Homo sapiens: one gene and its partner. The protein of the gene in region 1 purifies or fractionates together with the protein of each later gene. This does not show direct contact. Each region holds a gene or a part of one and is shown in the gene's direction. Other genes may lie near its edges.

Evidence for each region.
Region 2: the proteins of C1QTNF3 (region 1) and CTHRC1 purify together in Homo sapiens (affinity purification with mass spectrometry; one large-scale study listed by BioGRID and IntAct). This does not show direct contact.

Annotation. Positions count from the first base shown.
Region 1 is NC_000005.10:34,019,085-34,022,909, reverse strand, and holds part of C1QTNF3 (complement C1q tumor necrosis factor-related protein 3 isoform b precursor), read left to right. Parts: intron 1-2,167; coding exon 2,168-2,327; 3' UTR 2,328-3,825.
Region 2 is NC_000008.11:103,374,280-103,378,104, forward strand, and holds part of CTHRC1 (collagen triple helix repeat-containing protein 1 isoform 1 precursor), read left to right. Parts: intron 1-1,458; coding exon 1,459-1,680; intron 1,681-3,747; coding exon 3,748-3,825. UniProt on the Homo sapiens protein: May act as a negative regulator of collagen matrix deposition.

The DNA of each region.
Region 1 (3,825 bases):
CACTCCAGCCTGGGCGACAGAGCGAGACTCCATCTCAAAAACAAAACAAAACAAAAAACAAACAAACAAACAAACAAAAAAACTGACTTTGAAATTCTCTCTGGTCATTGTCATTGCCAGAGTCAGAAGGAGAAAAGCTTGCTGTTGCAAGCTTGTGGAAATATTTATGGATCAGGAATTCTGTTCAGAGAACTTAGTCACATTGTTTTCCACCCAACAAATGCAAAGGTGACATGGAATTGCAGTGCCAATGGAACAGAAGAAAGGGGATTCTGGTGAACAGCTAACCTTCTCTGCCCACTGGCTTCCAAATATCTGCTGAATTCTTCTTCCTACACTTACAATACATGTCTCCCCATCTCCCTGTCCCTATGGGAGACAGCCTGTGAAGCACAAATAATGCATCCAGCTCAAAGCCCTGAGTCAGTCAATGAGTAGTCCTTTTTATCAGATTGGTTTGTTGGCTGTTTTTCTCTTTGGCTCCTGGTTCTGTCCTCTAGGAGGGTCTTCTTTATCTGCTTTTCTCTGTGGCACATCTGAAAGGTGAGCAGGGCCTCCTCGAGGCTCTCTCACAGCCCACTTCCTGCTGGTGCAAATTTGAAAGCTGAGTCAAACAGCCCAAGCCTCTGGAGTCTGGTTTTGTGTCTCTGGCAAACCCATTTCCTCAGAAACTTACTTGGCAGGCTTTTACTCTGTTTTTTACTCGATTTTACTCTATTTACTTAGCTGGCTTTTACTTCATTTGTTAAATAGATTAAGTGAAGTCAGTTACATGTGTTACTAAACCACACTCCATATACTTTTCTTGACAGTTTTCAGCCTGCTATTCCTTGTCTTCATGCCTTTCTCTCAAGTTAATGGAGTTACCCTGAGGCCTTCTAAAGCAATCGATTTGGGCAGAAAGGCAATATTTTTAATCCATCAGATTGTGCCACAGCTGTGTCTACTTGATTGAATGAGTAGTCTTTTTTTATTATGATTTTACTTTAAGTTCCAGGATACATGTGCAGAATGTGCAGGTTTGTTACACAGGTATACATGTGCCATGGTGGTTTGCTGCACCTATCAACTCATCATCTAGGTTTCAAACCCTGCATGTGTTAGTTATTTGTCCTAATGCTCTCCCTCCCCTTTCCCCTCACCCTGCCACAGGTCCTGGTGTGTGATGTTCCCCTCCATGTGTCCATGTGTTCTCATTGTTCAACTCCCACTTATGAGTGAGAATATGCGGTGTTTGGTTTTCTGTTCCTGTGTTTGTTAGTTTGCTGAGAATGATGACTTACAGCTTCATGCATGTCCCTGCAAAGGGCATGAACTCATTCTTTTTTATGGCTGCTGAATGAGTAGTCTTAAGGAAAAAACATCAACTTTATCACTGCTCTTCCAGATATAAAGACACCTGGCTTTTTTAACCTTGTTAGGCCCTAATCACGTAGACATTATTTACTTCCTTTTCTTCAAACAAGTCAGTTTTTGCCTAACTCATCTTTGGTAGCAACATCTTTCTAAAAGCAGCAAAGAGTACTTTGGCTTTTTCCAGTCACTTCCCTTTCTTACCCTACAGGCATTAGATCTGTCTTCCAAGTTATCACATTTTCCAAATGTTTTTGCACAGTGTAACATGGATCTTCTGCTTTCCCAGACCATGATATTTGTTTCCCCATTGCTCCTTGCCTGACCATGAGCCAGTGCAAGCCTATTTTTATTTGGGTTGCGGAGCAGCCTCCTTTTGTACCAAATTCTAGCTTGGTTAGGGGAAGCTAAATTACTGTAACAAAAACCCAGTGGAATAGCTCAAACATAATATAACTTTCTTTCCTTCTCATCAAACAGCCCAAGGTTGTTCCAGGTTGGAGCAGAGAAGAGAGAGAGCTCTTTTCCACATGGTCTCCAAGAACCCAGTATTCAACATATGGCTTCTAAGATCATTCTGGTCATTGTCATGAACATTCCAGACAGTCATAAGAAGGAGCAGGGAGGGGTTTTGTGAGAGTGTTACTAGCCAGCTTTAGAAGTGGTACATAGGTCATTTCTGCTCACAGGCTGTTTAGAGAACTTAGCCGCAGGATTATACCTGTGGGAAGGAGAGAAGGGGAGCACAGACTTTGGTGAAGAGCTGGTTGTTCATGGCAAAAACTAAGTAGTTTGTTCCTCTTTTTCTTTCCAGCTATGAAATGAAGGGCAAATCAGATACATCCAGCAATCATGCTGTGCTGAAGCTAGCCAAAGGGGATGAGGTTTGGCTGCGAATGGGCAATGGCGCTCTCCATGGGGACCACCAACGCTTCTCCACCTTTGCAGGATTCCTGCTCTTTGAAACTAAGTAAATATATGACTAGAATAGCTCCACTTTGGGGAAGACTTGTAGCTGAGCTGATTTGTTACGATCTGAGGAACATTAAAGTTGAGGGTTTTACATTGCTGTATTCAAAAAATTATTGGTTGCAATGTTGTTCACGCTACAGGTACACCAATAATGTTGGACAATTCAGGGGCTCAGAAGAATCAACCACAAAATAGTCTTCTCAGATGACCTTGACTAATATACTCAGCATCTTTATCACTCTTTCCTTGGCACCTAAAAGATAATTCTCCTCTGACGCAGGTTGGAAATATTTTTTTCTATCACAGAAGTCATTTGCAAAGAATTTTGACTACTCTGCTTTTAATTTAATACCAGTTTTCAGGAACCCCTGAAGTTTTAAGTTCATTATTCTTTATAACATTTGAGAGAATCGGATGTAGTGATATGACAGGGCTGGGGCAAGAACAGGGGCACTAGCTGCCTTATTAGCTAATTTAGTGCCCTCCGTGTTCAGCTTAGCCTTTGACCCTTTCCTTTTGATCCACAAAATACATTAAAACTCTGAATTCACATACAATGCTATTTTAAAGTCAATAGATTTTAGCTATAAAGTGCTTGACCAGTAATGTGGTTGTAATTTTGTGTATGTTCCCCCACATCGCCCCCAACTTCGGATGTGGGGTCAGGAGGTTGAGGTTCACTATTAACAAATGTCATAAATATCTCATAGAGGTACAGTGCCAATAGATATTCAAATGTTGCATGTTGACCAGAGGGATTTTATATCTGAAGAACATACACTATTAATAAATACCTTAGAGAAAGATTTTGACCTGGCTTTAGATAAAACTGTGGCAAGAAAAATGTAATGAGCAATATATGGAAATAAACACACCTTTGTTAAAGATACTTTCTAAACTTGTGTTTAATAAACTTTAATAGTCATAGAATTGTAAATCACTATGGTTAACAGAAAGTGAAAATATTTTCATGCAGATGATGTGAACAGCCATGTGAATAGGTGACTTGGGCACACAGCAGGGTCATATGACTTCAGAAAACTTCGCTTTTCAGTTATTCCATTGTTATAATGTCAACCCTTTAAGACATTGATGTTTAGAGGGCTCACAAATAAAATCTGAATACCTGTAAGGAAAGAGGTTTTTTATCACATACCTTAAGTCTTTGTAATGTTCATGCTTAAATTCTAAGTTTTCACCTTAGTGACACACAAGGTTTGGTTGTAGGCAACAAGTCCCAGGTGTGTGGGAAATTGATTCACAACAGAGATGGGAAAAGGTGCAGATAATTTCCAATGCCTTCACAATTTACCCATGACCAGAAATATACTTGGAAGACTGATTTCACAAGTGTCCCAAAACTGAGATGCTAAAAAGGAAACAGTAGGTAGGTGTCATAGGAAATTTACATGTACCATCTAATAAACAAACTTGCAAATTCTAAATCTTTTTTTTTTTTGAGACAGTTTCACGCTGCTGCCCAGGCTGGAGTGCAGTGGC
Region 2 (3,825 bases), on another chromosome or scaffold:
CCCAGATACTGTAGTCAAAAGATAAGCTTTGAAGTTACTTTAATATCTAAGAAACTTTGTTTTTTGTTTTCATTGGGAAATATAGTTATACAGAATAATACTAGGCAACTTACACAAATAGAGGAAATGTTAGAGTAAACATTTAAATGGATTGCATTGGGTTTTGGAGTGTCTAATAAACGGCACCTTTGTTCCTAGCTGAACCAATTCAGGTGTAGACACAGGAATTAGACAGGTGGGGCACAGGATATCACCTTTACCACTGATCATACAGCATTGGCATGTATGGCTTATGTGTGCTAGGCTGGTGGGTTTGCTAATGCTCTCTTCCCCAGGTCTAAATCCTGAAAGGTCCACCCAGGGCAGTGGACACACTTACCCAGAGTTGCTGCCTTGCACTGGTCCTGGGGAACATAGGAATAATAATGGCTGACACATACAGTGTTTACTGTGTTCCAGGCATTGTTCTAAGCACATTTTATATATTATTCACTTAAATCTCATACAAACCCTATAAAGTAAGACTCTTTATTATTATCCACATTTTACAGATAAGGAAACAGGCACCAAAATGTTGAGTAATTTGCCCTATCTCACAGAGCTAATGTAAGGTGGAGCCGGGACAAAATCCAAAGAAACTGGCTCTAGAATCCATGCATTTAAATGCTACAAGATGTCCTTCTCCAAACAAACAGAAAATCATAGTCCTTACAGACAGTTTGACAGATTGTGGATGGTCCCCTATTGAGAACTAATGGTCACTTGAAACTGGGTCACTTACTGCTTCTCCTTGGGGAAGAGGGGTGGGATGAGAGGCCAGAAATGTTATCCAAGCACTGCTTCCCCCACTTAAAAACAGGGAGAAGCAGGGATTTTCATACCCAAGTTGGAGCTATTGCCAGTACAAGATAATTATTGACTCTTAAGATTTTATTTTATAATTATGTCCCTAGGAATTTATCTTAAGGAAATAATTCAAAAGAAGAAAAAGGCTGTATGGATATTTTCATTACAATAATATTCATAATAAAAAAAGTAGAAATAAACTATCCAAAAATAGTGCAATGTTTGCATAAAACTGTAAAAATCCAGGTCCCTTTGCAAGATACAGAGTTAGAAGAAAAAAGCAGAATATCAAATTATTCCCACCTTGGAATACAGCTATTTAAAATTGTGTATGCCTATAATGAGCAGAAGGGAGCAGGCAAATAATTTTGTCCTCCTCTGATGTGTGTGTGTGTGCGTGTAAAGTCTGTGCACTAAAAAATATGAAGGAAATCACAATATTTTAGAAATAATTTGAAAATGAATTCTCTGTAATAACTCATCTAGAACACGGGCATGTGGTATGAAGGGATTCTTGACTCCAAGGGCTCAAAATAAATGCATTTCTAATCATACTGAGTCTTTGACTCTTAAGTGGTGAGAGTTTTCTTTGCCTTTTCTTTCTCATTATAGTATAATGGAATGTGCTTACAAGGGCCAGCAGGAGTGCCTGGTCGAGACGGGAGCCCTGGGGCCAATGGCATTCCGGGTACACCTGGGATCCCAGGTCGGGATGGATTCAAAGGAGAAAAGGGGGAATGTCTGAGGGAAAGCTTTGAGGAGTCCTGGACACCCAACTACAAGCAGTGTTCATGGAGTTCATTGAATTATGGCATAGATCTTGGGAAAATTGCGGTAAGTTTGAATTATTTTAAAATTGAAGCAAGATTTAAGGGTTTTCATATTTTAGTGTTAATTTTTAGGTGACATTTTATTTTTTTTTAACTAAAAGACTTAAAAAAGAGAAGTAGGTAGCATGTGACTTTTAATTTAAAACTAATGAAAAAGTTTATAACATTTCAGAATTTCATAGAGATATTTCTAAGACAAATGCTTATCATTTTAACCATAGTATCTAAAATAACATACTTTTTAAAAATGCAAACAAAAGAGAGCATATGTGTCTGTGTTGGACAGTAAGCAACTTTCCAATCTTATCCTAAAGTAAATTTAAATTTAGTCTAAGAAATTCTGTCCTGGCTTCAGACATAAAGGTGGGAAAAAATTTCCAAGAAATTACCACATTGATCTGGAAGCAGAAGTCCATTGGTGTTTGTCTTTATTTAGGAAGCATGCCCAGCTTAAAACTGCTAAGCCTAAGAGAAGTGAAATGGGTTAGATGTGAGGTACTACAGTGATTATTTTAAGTTATTCTGCAACATTAAGGCTGAGTGGCAGAGAATTACTCAAAATAGCCTGTCCGGTCATGTATTTTGACTAATGTTTCAGTCACTTTGATTAGTGTTTGCTTCAAAAGTAATTGGCAAGTCCACTGGGATGGAAGAGAGTTGAAGAAGTTGATGCTATTTATAAGCCTCTTTTCTCTGTTGATGAACTCTGTACATGGTTCCATATTCACAACATATTACTTCATGATTTTACTGCTACCATCAAGCAATTACAAGAAATTTGTTTCATAAAACTCCAAGATTTTAAGATGCACTCTGTGTATAATCCCTGTTCCTTATCTCAGCTCTTTCTGCTCTATTAAGAGTTTGAGACTGTCTTGTTTTGTGATAGAATTTCCATGTAGCTTCCATAGTTATGATGACTATGACCTTTTCTGTGTTCATGTGTGTTTCTAGAAAACATTTTGTTAAAATGTTCCCTAGTTATTTAAACATCTGACATTGATAGACTGGTTGTTTATTTATAGTTGTTCATCAAAAGTTACTGAGTTCTTTCTAAAAGCTATCCTTGTGGGTTCTGAATTATTAATATGTTTTCAAGTTCCTTTTAGCAATGGTCAGGATGGGTATGGTAACCTTCTATGAGTAAAGGATAATAGGTCCATGAGCCAATAGACAGACAAATTTGCATAGACCAATGAGAAAATAAGCAAACAAGAAACCTGGGCCTTATCATTGCATCATATAGATAAAGACTAAAAACCCTGCCTATCCTTTACTCCCTCATACTGTTTGCTGTTGCTCGAAAAGAAACACGTCAAGAGTCAATACGAATGGACAGAACTAGTCTAGAATGTAAGTTCCATGAAGGTAGGGATTCTGGTTTGTTAACTGCTCTATCTGTACCATTTAGCACATAGTTGGGGCTCAGTAAATATTTTTTGAATGCAAAAAAAAGAGGAAATATATAAATTGATTTTATCAAAAGTACTGAAGGCTAGCCTTTTTTGATAAAACTGAAAGATACCCTCAATGGGGCGAAAAGTTCTGAGAAAGCTGCAATTTGATTTTCTTAGAGTTCCTATATCAAAATCTCTTACCTAGCTTGCAGAAAATCTCCCTCCCTCTATAAAAGTTAAGCTTTATTTTTGTTTATTTTAATTTTTTTGAGACAGAGTCTCACTTTTTTGCCCAGGCTAAAGTGCAGTGGCACAATTTCGGCTTACTGCAACCTCCACCTCTTGGGTTCAAGCGATTCTCACGTCTCAGCCTCCCGAGTAACTGGGATTACAGGCGTGCGCCACCACACCCAGCAAATTTTTTGTATTTTTAGTAGAGATGGGTTTCGCCATGTTGGCCAGGCTTGTCTCTAACCCCTGGCCTCAAGTAATCTGCCCCCCTCGGCCTCCCAAAATGCTGGGATTACAGGTATGAGCCACCACACCCGGCCAAGTTAAACTTTTTAAATACATTTTGGGGAAAAGGATAGTTAAGTAAAATTCACCAGTCTCAAAAGCTCTTTTTAATTAAAATAGAAAATGTTAATTAAATCCCATTTCTATGTTTGTGACAGGAGTGTACATTTACAAAGATGCGTTCAAATAGTGCTCTAAGAGTTTTGTTCAGTGGCTCACTTCGGCTAAAATGCAGA